Linked DNA regions of Homo sapiens: regions 2, 3 and 4 are each linked to region 1. Evidence: fine-mapped expression QTL. A gene starts in region 1. Each other region holds a variant in brackets. All regions are shown on one strand. Distances are from middle to middle. Region 1 holds the start of RHPN1 (rhophilin Rho GTPase binding protein 1). Region 2 has its middle 6.9 kb from the start of TOP1MT. Region 3 has its middle 14 kb from the start of ZFP41. Region 4 overlaps TOP1MT (DNA topoisomerase I mitochondrial).

Region 1 (5,150 bases):
AGCCCCATCAGCAATTATCACCTCATCTGCAAAAGGTCCCGGCGCTCACTGCCGTGCCCCTCCCGCCGCTGTCCAGTTCCCTGCCTGTCACACCAAAATTCTCCTCTACTTTCTCACCTCCCATCCTTTCATTTTTCCCCCTAAATTTTTAAACTTCAGAAGTGCACAATACACATGTAACAAACCCACACATGTACCTCCAAATCTAAAATAATTTAAAAAAACAAAAAGGAAACTCTAAATTTTTTGAGTGCAGTGATACATTCTTGCTGTGCCAAATCCAGTAACACAGAAGCATGCAAAGAAAAAGGCAGCACCACCCCCCTCCAACACACACACACACACACACACACGCACACACGCACATATGCACGCACACACACGCACACGCACACACGCACACGCACACACTCCAGCCTGGGCGACAAGAGCAAGACTCCATCTCAATAAATAAATAAAGAAAATAGTAATTGAATATTTTCCTTCAGGAAACAGCACCCTGCAGGGAGGGGAAGTCTTATGACCCTCAAAGTTTGAGAGCCTCTCTTAACTTCCCAATGGCCTCTGTCTGCTGAACCAAGAAGCCTGCAAAACAAATACGTAAGAACTGGATACCATTTCAGTCACACATGCTTGCTGACAGTCACTGATATGGTAATGCCTCCTGTACACATAGCTGACTCTGAAGACTGCTAAGAGGGTTTGGGTCTCTGCTGTACAGGACCTTGGCAGCCTGCAAGGAGATGACTCACATGGAAGTCCCCACACAAGTGCACCCAGTGTGAACTTTGGAAGCATCGGCCCATGCTCAGGCCCACAGGTAAGATGGCCAGGAGCCCCTAACCTTGAGGAAACTTGAACCACAGAGCTGCTGGCGAAGGGGGTGGGTGAAGGTCTCATGTAGCCTGTGTGATTCAGGCAGAAGTGAGAAGGACGGGTGGGAACCCACCAAGTGGACGACAAGCTGAAGGGCTCCCAGGGAGCAGACACTTCAAGGGCCCCAAAAGGCCAGGAGAAAGAAAAAAAAAAGCCGGGTATGGTGGCTCATCCCTGTAATCCAGCACTTTTGGGAGGTTGAGGCAGATGAATTGCTTGAGCCCAGAAGTTTGAGACCAGCCTGGGCCTGGGCAATGTGGCGAAACCCTGTCTCTACAAAATATACAAAAATTAGCCGGGTGTGGTGGTGCAAGCCTGTAGTCCCAGCTATTCAGGAGGCTGAGGTGGGAGGATCACATGAGCCCAGGAGGTGGAGGCTGCAGTGAGCTGTGATCGTACCACTGCACTCCGGCCTGGGGAACAGAGTGAGGCCCTGTCTCAAAAGGCCAGGAGTGGAAGACAGGCCCTAGCCAGGAGGTTTCGCGTGGCTGGCAGGGGCCTTATGAGAAGGCTGTTGCTGGGAGGGGCCTGCTGCAGATGGCTGCGGCAGACCACGGAGCTTAGCCTTCAGGATTTAGATCTGGGGATGACAGGCTCCTGTGTGCTTGTTGCGGAGCCGGGAGCACAGGCACCAGAATGATCCCAGGGCTCAGCTCCAAGGCTCCGCTGGGCCTGTGGTGGGGCAGTGAACGTGGACAAGACCTGGGCTTCAGAGGAACTTGATGACCAGGAGCCGTGGTTACCGCCTGTGCCCTGGCCTTCCTGCTCTTCAAAGGGTGTGTTCTGAGCTGAGGCGAGACCCACACGAAATCCGAGCGGGCTCCGGAGTCACCAGACACCTAGGGAAGTATGGAAGGCCCGGAAGGACACACACAGCCGGGTGAGCCCCGCAGGGAGCTGTGCAGTCTCAGGTCGTCCAGTCCTGGGGCTGCAGGCCAGTTCTCCAAGCAGGTGGTCCTGGAGGCAAGCTGGTTTTGAAAGTAGGTTCTGAAAATAGGTCAGTCCAGGAAACAAGCTCTGGAAGTAAAGAGATTCGGAAAGCAGGTTCGTTCTGGAAACAAGTTCTACAAACAGGTAGTTCTGAAAGCACGTGGGTTCCAGAGGCAGGTGCTAGAAGGATGTGGGTTCTGTACGGAGGTTCTGGAGGGAGGCGGGTTCTGGACGGAGGTTCTGGAAGGAGGCGGGTTCTGGAGGCCGGTTTTGGAAGCAGGACGACACCGACAGAGGCGCCTCGGACTGGGGCCAGGCCTGGAGCCTCCGCTCCGCGGGCAGAGAGAAGAAAGCAGGCATTGTCGGAGGACTCACACAAGCACTTGTCCCTAACAAAACCGTTTTTAAAAACCCCATTGTGAACATTTTTGGAACAAGCCTCTTAGAGGGTCCCGTTGCCGGGGTGACAGGACGAAACGGCGCGAGCGGGCAGACTCCTGGAGTCCCCGCAAAGGGAGCCGAGGAGCTAGGCGCGCCGAGTCCAGGTCCGCCCTGACTCTCAGCTTGGGACGTTCCGTATAGTTTTTTTCTCCGTTTCCCGAACTTCTCCCGCACGCTCAGCGGCCGCCGCGGCGCATGCGCAGTACAACCTGCCAGCCAGCCGCGGGCGTTCCGGCCGCGGTTGCCAGGGGTTACCGTCCCGCGGGCGGGCGGAGCTGGCCGTCCAGAGCCCGCCTTCCTGGAACTCTGGTTGGCTGATATAGCTGTCCGTCGAAGCGGCATTGCCGCCTATTGGGCAATGGCCAGCTTCGCACGCCAGACCCGTGCCCCGCCCAGCCGCGCCGCGGGCCGCCCCCACTCAGGAGGGACAGTCGGGGACCGGCGCGGGCACTCAGGAGCCCGCGGCCCAGGTGGTGCGGGCGGCCCTAGCCCGGCTGCGGAGCGCTGCGCGAGCGGCGGGCTGGCTGACCCCGAGGGACCCCCAGCGCAGCGGGTGCGGCGATGATCCTGGAGGAGAGGCCGGACGGCGCGGGCGCCGGCGAGGAGAGCCCGCGGCTGCAGGTGCGCAGAACTGGCGCGGCGGCGGGAGGAGGGGCCCGGAATCCCGGCCTTTTCCTGCCCCCCCTCGAGGCGCGTTCCGGGCGCCCCCCTCCTACGTCTCATTCGGCCCGGACGCAGGCAGGGAAACTGAGGCCAGAGCCTGCGTCCCTCCTCCTCTGAGCTCGGTGGAGGTGCTTCCAGGCCACTCATGTGAGCCGGGAAATGCGGACAGCCAAAGTCTGGATCATCCTCACCGCTGAAGCGGGTTGGGGGGACGCCCTCCTCGTGTCCCCCTTCTGGGCGGATGTGGGGCTGGGCTCTGTGAGCGCCCTCCCCACACCCGCCATCGTGTTCCTTTCCGGCACCTGTACAGCCTCCTTCCCTAGTTCGGTCCTCCCTCTGCATCCGCTCAGGAACTGCATGCCCATTGGGTGCACTGGTAGCAGCGGGCAGCGAAGCCTCCTGGGTATGGGAAACCGAGAGAGGTCTTCCCGGCTGGCCTCTTCTCACTTCCCAAACCTCCTTCCCTTCTGAAGTCCCTAACCCGGGGTGCTGACTGGGCAAGTGGGAGGGGTGGGCAGGGCTGTGGAGACCTGCTGAGTCTGTGCCTGGGAAGGAGGGGACGTCTGTGGGCCTTGCTCTGCAGCCCAGAGCCTGCTTGTTCCCTGCGGACCAGCTCGAGGCTGCCCCAGTCCTCCTGCCAGGCCCTGGGCGCCCACGCCCGCCACGGGCTTTCAGCCGCGGGCTGCTCCTGCTCCTCGCCCCGGGTGAGCCTTTGATAGCGCGCGGCCCTCCTCCCCTCTGGGACGTCAGACTGTGTTGTCCCTGGGCTGGTTCTACTCGGCTTTGGTGTTTGGGGTTAGGTCTCCTAGAGGAGGAGGCGGTGCTATCAGCCAGGGTTTGGCTTCAGGTCACTGGGCTGGTGATGCTGACCGTAGCCCTCAAGGACGCCCTTCTTGCCCACCCCGAGGCGTGCCAGAGGCTGCAGCACCTCCTGGGCACTGGAGGGAAAGAGGCAGCCTGTGCCTGCCCCCTATGAACTTGCTCTGTCAGGGCGGCCATGCCTGCAGGTGGCCTGGGACGGCACATGTTGTTTTGGGTGGAATGTTTGGGAGGCTGTACAAACAAGATGTCCCAGAGGGCTCCGGAGGTGACGCTTTTCAGGCTGGGGGCTGTGCCTGGGCTCCCTGTCCTGGCCCTCCCTGGGCTGCCACCTTGGAAAGTTGGGGAGAAGCTGTTTCCAGGCTGCCGTGTCTCTCACAGCGTCCAGAAATGACCCCACAGTCAGGGTACTGGGGAGGGGCCCGTGGGAGGTGGCAGTGGGGCGGAGGCAGGCCCTGTGTCACACGCGCACCACTCAGGCTGTCCTGCCATCTGGAAAGTCTTCCCCGATGCCTGCTGCCGGGCTAGAGTGAGGCCTGTTCCACCCCCATCAGGCTGGCCCCCAAACTGGCCCTAAAGCTCAGAGTTCAGTGGGTCAGGGGTCGGTCGTTCATCCACTTAGAGGCCACACCTGGGCCTGAGGCCCTGTGGACAGGTCTGGGTGACTTGTATTTGCCCCAGGCGTGATGAGAGCAGGCTTCCAGCAAGCGCTTACCTGGTGCCAGGGCCAGTGCTACAGCTGGAGTCCTGCCATTGGTGCCTCCCAAGCCCTGGGCCTCAGCCCGTCTGATGAACAGGGTGAGTAAGTGGCCAAGGCTGCCAAGCTGGGAAGGGGAGAAGCCTGGCACGGCCCAGGGTGGCCAACCCAGCTGCCGTCCCTCCCGCAGGGGCTGCAGGGGCTCCCGGGGGAGGACCACAAGGAATACAGCCTGGCTGTATGCAGAAGGTTCTGTGGTTTCCTGGGGAGGCCAGTGGGAGAAGGGGGAGCAGGCTGCAGAGGGAGAGCGTTGGAGCAGCAGGTGGGCAGGGTGGCTGTGCCCCCCTCACCTGGTCTCCAGCATGCCGAGTGGGTCAGCCTGAGGTTCCCCAGCCTGGCTGGACAGGAGCACCCTCTGGGTGCTGGTTACAGGTTCCCAGGCCCCTGCCCAGGTAGATTGGGCTCCAGGAAGAGGGGTGCTCAGGAAGCACCAGTGCCTGGGTACCCCAGGGAGCATCAGAGAGAGTGGGAGTCCCTGCCGTGAGTGGCCAGTCTATGATTCCTCTGGCGTGCGTGCTGCTTATAGCCCTGTGTCCCAGGAGACACCTGTGCAGCAATGCCCTTTGAATTCTGTTCCCTCATCAGTGGGGGGCAGAGATGGTGGGTCAGGTGGGTGCTGGGCTTCCACCCTCCTGGGGCTTCCAGTTCTTGCATTCAGGTGAGA
Region 2 (5,150 bases), 27 kb before region 1:
TTACCCCATCCAGAAGCCACACTGCAAAAGAAACAGTGACTTTGACCTTAACAATATACTTAATTTCAACTATTTCAACCAAAATACTGTCATTCAACATAATATGCTAATGCGATGGTATGCATCGTTCTTCTCAAAGCAGGCGTGCGTATCACACCCCCAGCACGTCTCCACTGGGAGAGCTGCGCAGCTCGTGGCTGCGTACAGGACACAGCAGGGGTGACGGCTACAACTGCAGTGTGGCCCACTTGTGGCCATGTGACCTTGGCCCGGTTACTTAACCTTTTTGTACCTCAGTTTCCTCATCTGAAAAATGGACATAGCAGTACCTACTTCATAGAGGACTGACCAAAAGCAATGCCAGACACACAGCAAACACTCACTTACTGCTGGCTGCTCCCAGTACCCTACAACCCACAGCTCAAAGCTGCCGATGCAAGAGGGCACTCTGGGGGGCACCCAGGCTCCCTGGCAACCTACAGTGGGCAGGCAAAGGCCAGCACTGTAGCATTCCCACATTCCCAGCACTGGTCTACACAGCACTCCCCGCCTCCCCCACCAGGGACAGGGAGGGGAAGTGGGCCTGTGCTGGTCTAAACTGCATTCCCCTGCTCCCAGCGCTGATCTACACAGCATTCCACCCCTGCCAGCACTGGTCTACACAGCATTCCCCCCGTCCCAGCACTGGTCTACACAGCATTCCCCCACTCCCAGCACTGGTCTACACAGCATTCCCCCCGTCCCAGCACTGGTCTACACAGCATTACCCCACTCCCAGCACTGGTCTACACAGCATTCCCCCGTCCCAGCACTGGTCTACACAGCATTCCCCCACTCCCAGCACTGGTCTACACAGCATTCCCCCGTCCCAGCACTGGTCTACACAGCATTCCCCCGTCCCAGCACTGGTCTACACAGCATTCCCCCACTCCCAGCACTGGTCTACACAGCATTCCCCCACTCCCAGCACTGGTCTACACAGCATTCCCCCACTCCCAGCACTGGTCTACACAGCATTCCCCCACTCCCAGCACTGGTCTACACAGCATTCCCCCCCTCCCAGCACTGGTCTACACAGCATTCCCACACTCCCAGCACTGGTCTACACAGCATTCCCCCCTCCCAGCACCGGTCTGCACAGCATTCCCCCCCTCCCAGCACTGGTCTACACAGCATTCCCACCACCCCGTCAGGACATGGAGGGAGAGAAGGGGTGGGGTAGGGTACACACCATTTCCACCTGCTGCCTTCGGCCTTCTCCCACCCTTTCTGGCTCTCCTCCTGTGGCTTAGCTGCCTCCTGGCCATCTTTCTTCTCTCCCTCTGGACACCCCAGCATCAACTGGCTCCCCCTCCTTCCACTTCTCTCTGCTTCTGGCTGGCTTCCGGCTGCCCTGAGCTTTCTCTTCTTGGGGCTTCTTCACCAGGCCCCCCACCTCCCAGTCACCCTTTGCCCCAGGGCAATGGCGAGGCCACGCCGCTGGCTGTGGTGCCCCGTCCAGCTCACTCCCACACTGCACTTCTCTGTCTTCCTCCAGGTCCTGAGCTTTTCATTTCTTTGGTTTTCGAGTCCCCTCTTCCCCAGCTTTGTCTGTCTCCCTCTTCTTTTCTTTTCTGGAAACCAAGGCCTCCTGTCCCACTTTTGTGCCACTACCTAATTTGTCACTTTCTTCTTTCTTGGTTTTTCCCACCCACACTTCTTTTACATCCTCGTCCTCGTTCTGTGCTTGTCTCCTGGCCCGTAACTCTCCTTTCTGCTCAGTGTGGCCCTGGCTCGTCCTCCGTGCTGGGGTGGGCACCATGCCCTCACTGTGCACCTGCTCCTGGCCACGCTTCGCACCTCTTCTGTGGGAACTGCTCTGTCTATCCCACTGCCCAGAGCGCGCTCCTCCCCAGCTCCCACGGCGGCCCCTGCACTCTTCCGCTCCCCACAGCTGAGGGTCTCAGGCTTGCCCCTAGCGTCCCCGCCACCCTCTTCTCGTGCTGCCGCCCCAGTGCATCTCCCCACACGTTTGTCCTGAAGCCCTTTCTCCCCTTTCTCTTCGGATATTCTTTTTTTTTTCTCAGTTTGTGCCTCTCTTCCACACAGCCCTTGCCCCGGCCAGTGTCTGTGAGCTCACAGTCCAGGTCCTCTTCCAGAGCCCCCTTCCGGCTGGGCACCGCCTGCAGGGCCATGCCCTTCTATCTCTTCTCTTGGGTGTCAGGACCCCGGGCACATCCACCAAGGGCCATCTTCATCTTGTCTGCAGGAACCTCCGTGTGGCCTTGGGACCTTGCCCAGAACAGAGAGCACACACCATGAGAGGGGCCACAGGGCCACAAACATACCCACCCGGAGACCCCAGAGGAGGAGGGAAGGTTCACCTTCCCCACCCCAGCAATGGCTGCCCTCCATGGGCCTAACAGATGCTTTTAACTCAGCTTTGGAAAATGGCCTCTTGATCTCAGCCCTTGTGGCCTCTGTCAGGAGCAGAAACCAAGGGCAATGAACAAAGGAGCCAGGGGTCAGCTTGGGGCTGCTCCCAACTCCGGAGCAGGTGCAGGCCGCAACAGGCCATACTGCCAGCGTCCACCCTGACCCAGACACAAAACACCAGAAAGGGAAGGTCACAGAGCACTATCCCGACACCACTGCCCCA[T/C]CTAGTGCTTCCTTCTTCCTTCTTCTTCCTCTTCTTCCTCCTCCTCCTCCTTCCTCTTTCTCCTCCCCCTTCTTCTTCTTCTTATTAGCGACAGAGTCTCACTCTGTTATTATTATTATTATTGAGACAGAGTCTCGCTCTGTTATTATTATTATTAGAGACAGAGTCTCGCTGTTATTATTATTATTAGAGACAGAGTCTCGCTCTGTTATTATATTAGAGACAGAGTCTCGCTGTTATTATTATTATTAGAGACAGAGTCTCGCTCTGTTATTATTATTATTAGAGTCTCGCTCTGTTATTATTATTAGAGACACAGTCTCGCTCTGTTATTATTATTATTATTAGAGACAGAGTCTCGCTCTGTTATTATTAGAGACAGTCTCGCTGTTATTATTATTATTAGAGACAGAGTCTCGCTCTATTATTATTATTATTAGAGACAGAGTCTCGCTCTGTTATTATTATTATTAGAGACAGAGTCTCGCTGTTATTATTATTATTATTAGAGACAGAGTCTCGCTGTTATTATTATTATTAGAGACAGAGTCTCGCTCTGTTATTATTATTAGAGACAGAGCCTCGCTGTTATTATTATTATTATTAGAGACAGAGTCTCGCTCTGTTATTATTATTATTATTAGAGACAGAGTCTCGCTCTGTTATTATTATTATTATTAGAGACAGAGTCTCGCTGTTATTATTATTATTATTAGAGACAGAGTCTCGCTCTGTTATTATTATTATTATTAGAGACAGAGTCTCGCTCTGTTATTATTATTATTAGAGACAGAGTCTCGCTGTTATTATTATTATTATTAGAGACAGTCTCGCTCTATTATTATTATTATTATTAGAGACAGTCTCGCTCTATTATTATTATTATTATTAGAGACAGAGTCTCGCTGTTATTATTATTATTAGAGACAGAGTCTCGCTCTGTTATTATTATTAGAGACAGAGTCTTGCTCTATTATTATTATTATTATTATTATTAGAGACAGAGTCTCGCTCTGTCACCCAGGCTGGAGTGCAGTGGCGTGATCTCGGCTCACTGCAACCTCTGCCTCCCGGGTTCAAGCGATTCTCCTGCCTCAGCCTCCCGACCACCACACCCGGCTAATTTTGTATTTTTAGTAGAGAGGGGGTTTCATCATGTTGGACAGGCTGGTCTCAAATTCCTGACCTCAGGTGACCCACCCACCTCCGCCTCCCAAAGTGCTAGGATTATAGGCATGAGCCACCACGCCTGGCCTGCTAACTTATTTCACCATAAAATCTTAGAAGAAAATCAGACACTAAGTTCATTTGTGTTGTCATATCTGCAAGAATAAGCATTCATCAGGCATGAGTGCCTGGGAAGTTGCTTATCAGAATCATGTTCACACATTCATTTCCTATTTAAGATGCCGACTTGGCCTTTTTTCTTGGGTGGCTTTTCATGGTGATTAGTCTTCACTGGCGTGGTGATCTGTGCAAATCTAGAATTCAAATGTATACATAAACATGCAGCTCTGCGGCTCATTTAGGGTTGCCATTCTAACAACAGAGAGTCAGAACAACCTCATGGAAGCCTCCCAAGCTCTTCATGACCCTTTTCTCATTTTTCAAAAGTACACCTGGCAAAGCTGCTGGTGACCCACGTGCTGGGCATCAAGGAACCTCTGACTCTGAGCACAGCACCAGCTGGCGGTGGGAAGTCCCGCCCGAGGCCAGAAGCTGCGAACACATCTCAGGCCCCTCCCGGCCTCGGGAAGAGTGGGCAGGCAGTAAAAGGCAGCTCCCAGGTCCCCTCTGGGACCATCTCTGTCCCCACCAACACCACAGCAGTTCAGAGATCATCAATTTGGAAAAACAGTCTTTCCAAAGTAACTTTTGAAGAAGAAGTGTGAGAAAATATATTCAGAAACAAAACCCACATTGAACAGAGAGAGGAACAGACACTTCGCTTAAGTGGGAATGGCACGGGGCCCACCTCGGGCTGCACGCTGGGTCAGAGGCGCCATCCCTGGGAACCCCGAGGAGGTTATGGGGGCACCAGGCACCCCGGTCTGAACGCTCCCACTCATCGGCTGACTGGCCACCCTCACCCACACCTCACACTATGGCTGCTCTCACTCCACCATCTGACCATCACAACACACGCCCACATCCATGCAGACTGGAGACACAGTGAAACACGCGTCTTGCAAGGAAAAACCTGTGAGATTTCTGAAAATCATGTTAGAGCCCTACTGAGGCAGAGGCCTGGGCCAGCCGAGAAAGGTGAGAGGAGGCCCTGTTGTAACACAGCTGGAAAGCAGGATTCATAGATGGATTTCATGTGGAATCTAGGCCCTCAAGGATGGGGCCCTCAAAGATGACACCAAGGTCTGTGCTTGAGAAGACAGAAGGAGCCGCTTCACCGAAACGAGAGGACTAGGGAGGGAAGGGCAGCAGACACCCACGGTCCTCTCAGGATGTGCTGACTGCAGAGGCCTAGAGTCCCACAGGGAAGCCGTGGGAGGCCCCC
Region 3 (5,128 bases), 140 kb before region 1:
ACCCTAGGGACGCTTTCCTGAGACCACTGAGGTCTGCAGAAGCTAATGGTCACCGGGATGGGTCAGCTCTGCAGGAAGCAGGGCGAGGCCACCGCTCCTGCACCCAGGTCCCTGACAGGAGATGCCCGTATTGGGACCTTTCCAGAGGAGAGAGGCGTCCCCAGCTCCTGTCATGGAAGCAGGTCATGCACCTTCAGGCTGGCCTCAGACCAGGGCACAGCCAAGGCTTCCTGCCCTCTAGGGTCTGCAGGTGGGAGGGGAAGGGGGTTCAGCTAGTTCCATGCTGGATACCGCGGGGTGCAGGGGCTTCCAGACATCAGGAGGTGGGAGCGCTGCCTGACACTCAGGCTTCCAGCAGCAGAGACCTCACGGGGGTGAGCCCTTTCACTGCCGCTTTGGTGGTGCAGGAAGCCTGGACCCAGCTCCCGGCTGGGGCATCCCATGAACAAGAGGAGGGTAGGAACCCAGCAGAGGACAACCTCCTCGACATAAAAACTTCTCCACAAAAGACCCAGGGAAGAGGAAGGAAAGACAAACTACAGACTGGGAGAAAATGTTTGCAAACTGCATAGCGGACAATGGACTGGAATCTACGATCTATTCACAACGTATCTCAAAATTCAACAGCACAAAAACAACCCACTTACAACATGGACAAACGACGTAAAGAGCTATTTCCCTGACGAGGACACGCAGAAGGCAAACGTGCACAGGAACAGATGTTCGACACCACGCACCCTCAGCGTTCCGACACTAGAACCACGGTGAGGCTGCAGCGATGGCTCACTCATGTCATCCCAGGACTTTGGGAGGCCGAGGGGGGTGTATCACTTGAGCCCCAAAGTTCAAGATCAGACTGGGCAACATAGCAAACCCTGTTTCTAAACAAACAAAAAATTCACGGTGAGATCTCATTATACACCTATCAGAACGGCTAAATAAAAAATAAACTGTTGCTGGATGCGGTGGCTCAAGCCTGTAATACCAGCACTTTGGGAGGCCAAAGCAGGAGGATCACTTGAGGTCAGGAGTTTGAGACCAGTCTGGCCAACATGGTGAAACCCTGTCTCTACTAAAAATATAAAAATCAGCCAGGTGTGGTTGTGCGCTCCTGTAATCCCAGCTACTCAGAAAGCTAAGGCAGAAGAATTGCTTGAACCCAGAAGGTGGATTATGCAGTGAGCCGAGATCACACCATTGCACTCCAGCCTGAGTGACAGAGAGACGCTCCATCTGAAAAAATAAAAATAAATCAAATAAATAAATAAATAAACCATGACCACCCCACATGTTGATGGGGAGGCAGAGAAGCTGGGTCACCTACCTGCTGCTGCTGGGAGTGGACGATGGAGCAGCCGCTCTGGAAGACAGCTTGGCTGTTTCTTATCAAACTAGACACGCAACTCCCACGACCCCCTGATGCGCCCCAGAGAAATGAAAGTCATGTTCATACAAAAACCTGCTCATGAGTGTTCACAGCAGCTTTACTTGTTTTAGGCAAAACCTGGGAAGCAGCCCAGATGTCCTTCAATGGCAAAGGGTTCAGCTGGTTCCATGGGCACCAGGGGAGACAGCCCAGCCACAGGAAGGCGGTGCCGCTGAATGGCATAGCCGCCAGGGGGAACTACAGAGACTCTCCGGAGTGAAAGTGGCCTCTCAACAGGCGGCCTCCAGGACAACTTCCTCTGCACAGCTCCCTGCAGCCACAATTCTGGAAATGGAGAGAACCAATGAGTGGCCACAGGGGCTCCCAGATGCCCCTCCCCACAGCGGAGGGTGTAATATTGCACCAAGTTATGCAAAATGATAGCCTTGGGTTGGGCACGGTAGCGCACGCCTGTAATCCCAGCACTTTGGGAGGCCAAGGCCAGTGGATCACCTGAGGTCAGGAGTTCAAGACCAGCCTGGCCAATGTAGTGAAACCCTATCTCTACTAAAAATACAAAAAAAAAAAAAAAATTAGCCAGGCGTGGTGGCAGGCACCTGTAATCCCAGCTACTTGGGAGGCTGAGGCAGGAGAATAGCTTGAACCCAGGAGGCAAAGGCTGCAGTTAGCTGAGATCATGCCACTGCACTCCAGCCTAGGCAACAGAGTGAGACTCCATCTCAAAAAAAAAAAAAAAAGAAAGAAAGAAAAGGTTACCCTTGGAAGAAACCGAGCGAAGCATATAATGAATGTCTCTCTGTTATTTCTTACAACCATATGTGAATCGACAATGACCTCATTACAATTTTTAATTGAAAACTAAAGGCGGCTGGGCATGGTGGCTCATGCCTGTAATCCCAGCACTTTGGGAGGCCAAGACGGGCAGATCACGAGGTCAGGAGATCGAGACCATCCTGGCTAACACGCTGAAACCCCGTCTAGACTAAAAATACAAAAAAATTAGCCGGGCATGGTGGCAGGCTCCTGTAGTCCCAGCTACTTGGGAGGCTGAGGCAGGAGAATGGAATGAACCTGGGAGGCGGAGCTTGCAGTGAGCCGAGATCGCGCCACTGCACTCCAGCCTGGGTGACAGAGCGAGACTCCATCTCAAAAAACATAAAATAAAATAAAATATTTTTAAAAAACTAAAGGCAGACTATTTTTAATAAAAGCAGGTGTCCGAAGCGTCAGGGAGCCCCGCTGGAGGGAGAGCCTGTGGGCGTCCTGGGGAGAATTGGGTGCCAGGTGCTCACCGGACCCCTGGAGCCCAGTGCGGGGAAGCTGTGGCAGGGAGCATGGAAGGCTCTGCGCAGATCAGCCCTCCCTGGGCACTGAAGATCT[T/C]CCCTGGAGGGAGGGCCTGTCATGGAGTGGGAACATGCTGGGGGGCGCACAGGCCCCAGCCCTTCTGCCCCCTAGAGAGGGAGGCCCTTGGCCAGGCACGGTGGCTCACGACTGTTATCTCAGCACTTTGGAAGGCCAAGGTGGACAGATCACCTGAGGTCAGGAGATCAAGACCAGCCTGGCCAACATGGTGAAACCCGGTCTCTACTAAAAATACACAAATTAGCCAGGCGTGGTGGTGGGCACCTGTAATCCCAGCTACTTGGGAGGCTGAGGCAGGAGAATCACTTGAACCAAGAAGTGGACGTTGCAGTGAGCCAAGATCACGCCACTGCACTCCAGCCTGGGTGACAGAGGGAGACCCTGTCTCAAAAAAAAACAGAGAGAGAAGGAGGCCCTTGCTCACATGTCAGGATTGAGGCCCAGGAGACCCAGGGGTGGGCAGAATGTGAGGGACTGAGAGCTCAAGGCTGAGTCGGCTTGGAAGAAAAGTCAAGGTGATTGAGCTCCGTGTGAACAAAGCTGGTTGTGTGCTGTTTTGCTATTGTTGTTGTTTTGTTTTTTTTCTTTTTCTTTTTTTTTTTTTTTTCCAGAGACAGGGACTCACCTTCCCACCCAGGTGGGAGTGCAGTGGCGTGATCTCGGCTGACTGCCGCCTCGACCTCTCAGGCTCAAGCCATCCTCCCACCTCAGCCTCCCAAGTAGCCGGGACCACAGGCACGCACAACCACACCCAGCTAATTTTTTGGTGTTTTTTGTAGAGACAGTCTCGCTGTGTTGCCCAGAATGGTCTCACACTCCTGAGTGCAAGTGATCCTCCCGCCTTGGCCTCCTAAAGTGCTGGCATCACAGGCATGAGCCACAGTGCCCAGCCATGTTGTCGTAGTTTGGGTTTGGTTTGGTTTTATTGTGTGTTTTGGCACAGCCCTTGCTCAAACCCTGCAGAAAACAGAAGATAGGTATGTACTGACTGGTTTCAACTAGTGTGGGAAAACCTGGGTACCCTCCCCTCTGTTTCCCTGAAGGCGCCCAGGCCACCAGCTTCATGAGCACCCAGCGGATAGGGTGTGCCTGGTACCACCACAGGAAGGCCAGCTCTGGACACAGGGAGGACGCACGAAAGGCCGAGACAGTGCCCAGCCAGTGCGGATCCTGTACGCCGGCTGCTGGGTTCTCCTCCCTGTGGCCATCCACCTTCATGCTCTGCCCTCACACCCTGGGGCCATGAGGCCAGACAGACTGGGCTTCGATCTGCCATGTTCCTGGCATGCACTTTAGGTGGGCGCGCTGCTCCAGTTCTCCCTCTGTGCCATGACAGCAGCTACAACTGAGGGCCCTGGGTGCACATGAGTGTGCAGTGAAGGTCAGGCATCCGTGAGGTCCACCGTCACACACTCCCAAGGGACCCCCAGCCAGCGCTGCACAACCACCAGGGCCACAGCAGCTCTGTCTTAACCATGTGCTGAGTTGTCTCGTAAATCAGTCCCAAAGCCACACACAAACCCTAGTATCACACAGACCTCCCTCAGGTGCTGGGGGCCCTGGTCCAGTCACCCCCTGCCTATTGACCACACTCCTCCACAGTGATGCACCCCAGTGCTGAGACCTCTGGCGGACTCATATAACCCTCCCCCCAGCACTGTGGTTCGGGTCTATCTCTTCCTGGGCCCAGGTCTCTTCTACCCAGGATCCCGTCTCTCCCGGACTGTGATGTGGGCGGCCTCGGCACTATGAGGCCAGGTGTCTGCCTTCCCTACAGACACTGGACTCTCGTATCTTCCCCGCTGGCTCCCTGGACCCAGGGCAGTGCAGCTTGGTTGGCTCAAGATCACAGCTCACCCCCGCTGAGGATTCCAAGGAGCATAATAGCTATGACAAAAATAATCTTAGAACAGACCTCTTCACATCCCTGAGAGGAGATGACTGTGACCTTCATCACTCCCATCTTACAGATGAGGAAACTGAGGCACAGGAAGGCTAAGTGCCTTGCCCAGGACCAGACAGCAATTCTGAGGCAGTTCTGGGATCTAAGCACAGGTGGCCTGGCTCCTGGGTCCACACACTCAACCCTACCCACAGCCCCCTCAACATGGTGGGGCCATCTGTGCTTCATCATGCACAGTGGCCTTCCAACCTCTGCCAGCTGCACAGAACAGGTGTGGACAAGGCCTTGGCCATGCACCATACTCAGGATGGTCTCTGCCTTGGAGAATCATGAGGCAGCACTGGTCTCCAGGGCCAGGTGGGCTGATGTCCAATGCTGGCTCAACAGCTTACTTGTTGTGCAAATCAGCCTGGTCCCCTGCCCTCTCTGAGCCGTGGTTCTTCATCTGTAAAATGATGATGTCCACGGCTCCTACC
Region 4 (5,150 bases), 37 kb before region 1:
GACCTCCTCCGCTGCCACGCTCAATCTCACAGGCCTTCCTGCAGGCATCGGAAGACACATCGTATGAGAGAGCGGCCAGAGGCTCGGCCTCCAGCTGACATGACCTCATTGCTTTAAACTACGCTTTCGTGCGTACTATGCCAAGAGCAAGAAGCTAGGCCTTCTTCTGTAAGTTCAGAAGCATGTTCTGCATGACACACGACAATCAACCTGCGTGGAGGTGGCGACCACAGTGATCTGGGAGCGGGTCGTGAGAAAGCTGCAGAAGATTTCAGGCGCTACTGCTTTCTCCTCCTTTACCACTTAACGTTGCTACTACATTTATATTACATGAAAATGGAACATGTACAATTTTAAAACACACCAATTTCCACAAAATTTCACAAGTAAAATAAAAGTTAAGGCTTCAAAGCAGAAAACTGAATAACTAGGTGTACCCTTTTACAACTCTGCGGCCTCTGTCCCACCATTCCCTGCATTTTATTCTAAGATCAGTGTGGTTTAGAGATGGGGGGTGAGCTGGGAGCAGGCGAGCAGAGTGAGAGGCTCGTGGTGGGAACGAGGGTGTTCACCAGGAATTCTTTCAACTGCACGTCTGAAAAGCTTTCATAAGAAAATTTTAGAGAAATAAATGCATAATCATTTGGTAAGAAGGAGGAAGGCATTTCTGATAAACAGCAGCAATCCTTCCCCAAACTAGCTTCTCAGGACAGAGGACGAGAGGCCCAGAGACCAGCAGCACAGGCCCGAGGGGCTCAGCTCCCACTGCCCCTCTGTGGAGGCTCGGCCCCACTGGGCCCCACGCGACACCACCACTCCCCGGACTGTCCACCATGGCCCTGCATAAGCAGTCCTCGCCTGCCATGTCCCTCCTGGCCAGGGAGGTCCTGCAGGGCTGCTGTGGGGCAGGCGAGGCAGCCGCTACACCAGGCCAGGGGCACAGCGCGAGACGCTCAGTAAGGTCCCATGGCCTCCCGTGGGCAGCCCCCACAGACACAGCTAGAACCTCTGTCCCTGTGGAAGCTCCAGTACCGCTTTGGAGAAACAGGCTTTGAACAAAACATTGCATCAAAGGAGCTCAGCAAACTCAGGTGTGCATGTGACTCGGCAGGGGGCCCACGGGAGGGCTGGTGGGAGGGGCACAGCATGGCGTGGGGGCCTGCCCTGGGGGAGAAGAGGTTTGCTTTTCTTAGAAGGATGCCTTCTAGCAGAGATGAAGAAAATAGGCTGAAGCAGCTAAAATCAGCAGCACAAGAGCCAAGCCAAAGCTCCTGGGCCCTGGGGTAGAGAGGAGGGCTCAAGGGCAGGAGGGGTGTGTGGGCCCTGCTGCCCCAGAGCCCCCGGGTCCTGCCTCTGAGGGTGGCTCAGCGCTCATGTCAACCACGGGCTCCGCTTCTTGCTGAGAATCACAAGCTGGGGTCAAGTGACCGTTCTGTGATCCATGTGTGTACACGCAGTGTACGTACTGTGTATACTCAGAACACACAGGGAACACAGTGGTGCGGGGGGAGGGAGGGGGGGTCCGCTTTGCCCAGAGGGTCCTGGACACAACAGGCACAGCCAGTGCAGGCTCAGCAGGAAAGGCAGGGACGGGAGCCCCCGAACTGCCACCCTCTGAGCATGGGTCAGTTGGTCAGCAGCCCCCACGCATCACCTGCAAGAAGAGGGCACAGAGCGCTCATAGCCAGAAGCCTGCAGGGGGGCTGAGGGAGCGAGCCAGATGCCCACTGGGAGCCCACGCCCAGGGAACCAAGCGCAGGCTGGGGAGGAGCCGCTCCCTGCATCCTTACCTTCATAGAAGAAACGCACTCCGTCGGGAAGGGGCTCGTATGGGGGTGCGAAGTACGGGCCCTTGTGCTCCAGCTGTCTCCACTTCACCCCGTCTTCGTGCTTCTCCTTCTCCCACCTAAAGACGGAGACAGGACGTGTCACTCTCCTGGGCCAGGCCCTGCATGAGCCTCTTCCCCGCTCCCACAGTGGCTCCTCCCTGTGGCTCCTAGCAGGTGAGCAGTGTGGCCTCCACCTCACG[G/A]GGGAGGAAAACAAGGCCTGCAGAGGGAGGCAACCCTACCTGACCTCAGACCCCATGCCCGTGTACCCGCCCATGCCCCCCACCTGCAGAGGCCCGTGTGCTGCTGAGTCACGGATCCCACCAAGCCCAGCTAAGCGGGAAAGGGCAAGCCCAGCTAAGTGGGAAAGGCAACGTGCCTCTCCCAGGCTCTAGGGCCTCTCCCCAGATGGGTCCCTTCAGAGCCGGTCTAGAATCTTCGGGAACCTCTCCATGGGACCATTTCATTTGCTAAATAAAGGACCTGGCTGCTTATGAGAGAGCCCTGCCTCCGAGGAGCTGGGTGGAAGGGGGTCCAGCAGTGCAGCCAGTGGAGAGGCACCACAGCAGGGCGCAGGACCGCCGCCCACAGAGGATCGGGCAGGGTGGAAGGGTGGAAGAGGCAGGGCGGGGTGGAGGAGGCGGGGCAGGGAGGGGAGGCCCTGAAGCCAGAAGCCTCAGGGGTTTTCAGGGAAGGGCTCCTTTTGTAAGGCACTAACACAGTGAGGCTCCACAGGGCTCCCTGCCAAGGTCCCCCTCCCCAGGGCGCCCCCTTCTGGCAAGCCCAGCTCTGGAGATTGGGGGGGTGTTGGAGGGGGTGGGGGGACACAGCCAGCGTGGCGGCTACAGCCCATCCTAACTCTCCAGGCCAGTCATCATCTATCCATTGAGGCAAGCCCAAGCCTGCCCTGAACCAGCACTGCGCTGGGTCCTGCGGATGCAGATCACCAAAACCCATACGAAGGGCTCAACTGAACCTAGATTCTGAGATGGGCCTGGGAGAAGAGGAGCGAGATGGGGCGTGGCTGGCAGGCAGTGGGCAGGCTCGGTCAGCAGGGCTGCGGGAAGAGCAAGTCCAGCACCCAGGATGGCCAGTGCAAAGGCCTCAGTGGGAGAGGCTTTGGCGAGAGGGTGGGAGCACCATCAGGATGGGGGAGAGTGAGATGGGCACACCTTCTGAGCCTCCCCCAGACGCACAAGGACAGAAGGTTCCAGATCACACCCCCACCTGCCAGAGCCAGGAGACCTGCACGTGACCCCAGCCAGGTAGTGCTGTTGGGGGCCTGGTGGGCCTGGTCGGCTGGGATGAGTGTCCTCAGAGCAACAGGAAGTCTCTGAAGGGTCTGAGAGGGGAAAGCATGTGCAACAGACATTTCTGAAAGGGCCTTTCTGGCTGTTTCTGCAGAGGAGGGAATGGGCAAGGTTAGAAGACGTAGAGACGGAGCTGATAAAGTAGGGAGAAGTTAACGGGCTCAAGAACCTTCCAGGGTGGAGCCGGGCGTGGTGGCTCACGCCTGTGATCCCAGCACTTTGGGAGGCTGAGGCAGGCTCAGGAGCTCAAGGCCAGCCTGGCCAACATGGCGAAAGTACAAAAAAACTAGCTGGCAGATGCTGCAGGCAGCTGGAGTCTGGAGGGAGACTCGGGGAGAGGGGGGTTCTGCTGACTCTGCAGAGCTTTTCCACGTCAGGTGAGACCAGCCTCACCTTTCTTACAGGTTTTAGGAGTTCAAGAGAGCCCACCAGCCCTGATACAGCATGTCTAGGGTGGGGCTGGTAGGAGGCTGCACCACTAAGTGCCCTGAAGGATGCAAACCTAGACAACGCCTTCTTAGAGAATAAGGGAAGATGGATCATGTCGGGTGTGAGAAAATGGGAAACCACGTGTATCTCGGAACTAACTGATAGGAGCCAGGCGCGGTGACTCACGCCTGTAATACCAGCACTTTGGGAGGCCGAGGCGGGCGGATCACTTGAGGCCAGGAGTTCGAGACCCGCCTGGCCAACATGGCAAAACCCCCGTCTCTACTAAAAATACAAAAATTAGCTAGGCGTGGTGGCGGGTGCCTGTAATCCCAGCTACTCAAGGAGGCTGAAGCAGGAGAATCACTTGAACCCAGGAGGCAGAGGTTGCAGTGAGTTGAAATTGCACCACTGCACTCCAGCCTGGGTGACAGGGCAAGATTTTGTCTCAAATAATAATAATAAAAATAAAAATAAAGAACTGACAGTGACCCTGACTGCCAAGTCCTTCACAAAGCCTCTAGGGTAGTCACATCACCAGTCTCATTTCACAGATGAAGACACTGAGGTGAAACAACCTGCCGGCCAGCGGCCAGGCAGGGCTGCACCACTGGGTGTGCGCTCAAGCCCAACTGAGGGCTGCACATTGTAGTGACATTCTTTCACCCCTGCAGAGACCAGGGCACCAAGCACCACCATCAGACACAAGCTGGCTTTCAAAGCCAGAGACCTTGCTCCAAACCCACCTGTCCACCTGGGCGACTGCAGCTCAGCAGCACTTTTTGGAAAGCACCTACCTGCCTGTGCACCCTCGGAGAGATGTGCCTCAATGCAGGGCCCACAGCCAGCCCCAGCTCCAAGCGCAGGCCAGAACTCCCTCCTCCCAAGACACCCTGCCCCATCTGGGGCTCTCTTTGGGTCCCAAGCTCCTGCAGGCAGACAGGACATTTCTGCAGCATGGCCTTAGGCAGCTGTGCAGGCCCTCAGCTGTGAATGGGTATGCTGATAGCGCACCACCAGGTCACAGAGACATGCCACGCTGGAAGCACTAAGTGAATGATGATAAACCGCGAGACCTGGCGGGAACTCCTGCAGGATCTCCCACGCACCAGTGAGGCTGTCAACTCTCCAGCTCTTCGGAAACTCCAGCATTTCATGCGCAGAGACCCATCCCCATGCGGCTACCCCAGGCCCAGTATGCGCCGGCAGGGCTTCTCACATGTCCTCCAGGAAAGCGCCTGGGACCACCAACGGCCACCAGGGCCACTGGATCCATGCGGCTTGTGCCTGGTGATGTAGATATGACAGTGAGCGCCCGCCGCCATGCAGAATCGGTCCTGGAGACAACCCGGGAACCGACTCCAGGAAAGAGCGGGTCTCAGAAGACCATGCACAGCAACATAAGCTTTTTATAAAGTACCTAACCAAACCCTACAGTGTTGAGGCCCAGGCACAGCTACACAAATGATGAAACCACAAGCGGAAAAAAAGAGGGGAGATTTCCCCAAATAGGGTTGGTGGGGTGGTGCCTGGGGAAGCAAGGGCGACGTCATGGGGGGGCCTGTACACCCCGGGCAGGAGGCGG

What was found.
Region 2: its variant is fine-mapped to the expression of RHPN1 in whole blood (TOPMed, PIP above 0.99).
Region 3: its variant is fine-mapped to the expression of RHPN1 in whole blood (TOPMed, PIP above 0.99).
Region 4: its variant is fine-mapped to the expression of RHPN1 in whole blood (GTEx, PIP above 0.99).

Annotation. Positions count from the first base shown.
Region 1 is chr8:143,366,180-143,371,329 of GRCh38, forward strand. RHPN1 (rhophilin Rho GTPase binding protein 1) reads left to right here and starts at 2,697. Exons shown (of 15, transcript NM_052924.3): 1 at 2,697-2,868. The coding sequence starts at 2,809. RHPN1-AS1 (RHPN1 antisense RNA 1) reads right to left here and starts at 2,456. Exons shown (of 1, transcript NR_026785.1): 1 at 444-2,456. RefSeq lists enhancers at 1,655-2,210, 2,951-3,858, 3,859-4,765 and silencers at 2,374-2,443, 2,454-2,913, 3,114-3,163.
Region 2 is chr8:143,339,168-143,344,317 of GRCh38, forward strand. It overlaps a transcript of TOP1MT not described here. Among named protein-coding and RNA genes, the nearest start is that of TOP1MT, 6.9 kb to the left of the region's middle. RefSeq lists an enhancer at 1-707. The variant T/C (reference allele first, on the strand shown) is at 2,639.
Region 3 is chr8:143,230,046-143,235,173 of GRCh38, forward strand. No RefSeq gene overlaps it. Among named protein-coding and RNA genes, the nearest start is that of ZFP41, 14 kb to the right of the region's middle. The variant T/C (reference allele first, on the strand shown) is at 2,768.
Region 4 is chr8:143,329,434-143,334,583 of GRCh38, forward strand. TOP1MT (DNA topoisomerase I mitochondrial) reads right to left here. Exons shown (of 14, transcript NM_052963.3): 2 at 1,791-1,906; 3 at 1-38. Among named protein-coding and RNA genes, the nearest start is that of TOP1MT, 2.9 kb to the right of the region's middle. RefSeq lists enhancers at 2,462-2,995, 4,671-5,150, 4,895-4,944 and a silencer at 5,145-5,150. The variant G/A (reference allele first, on the strand shown) is at 2,030.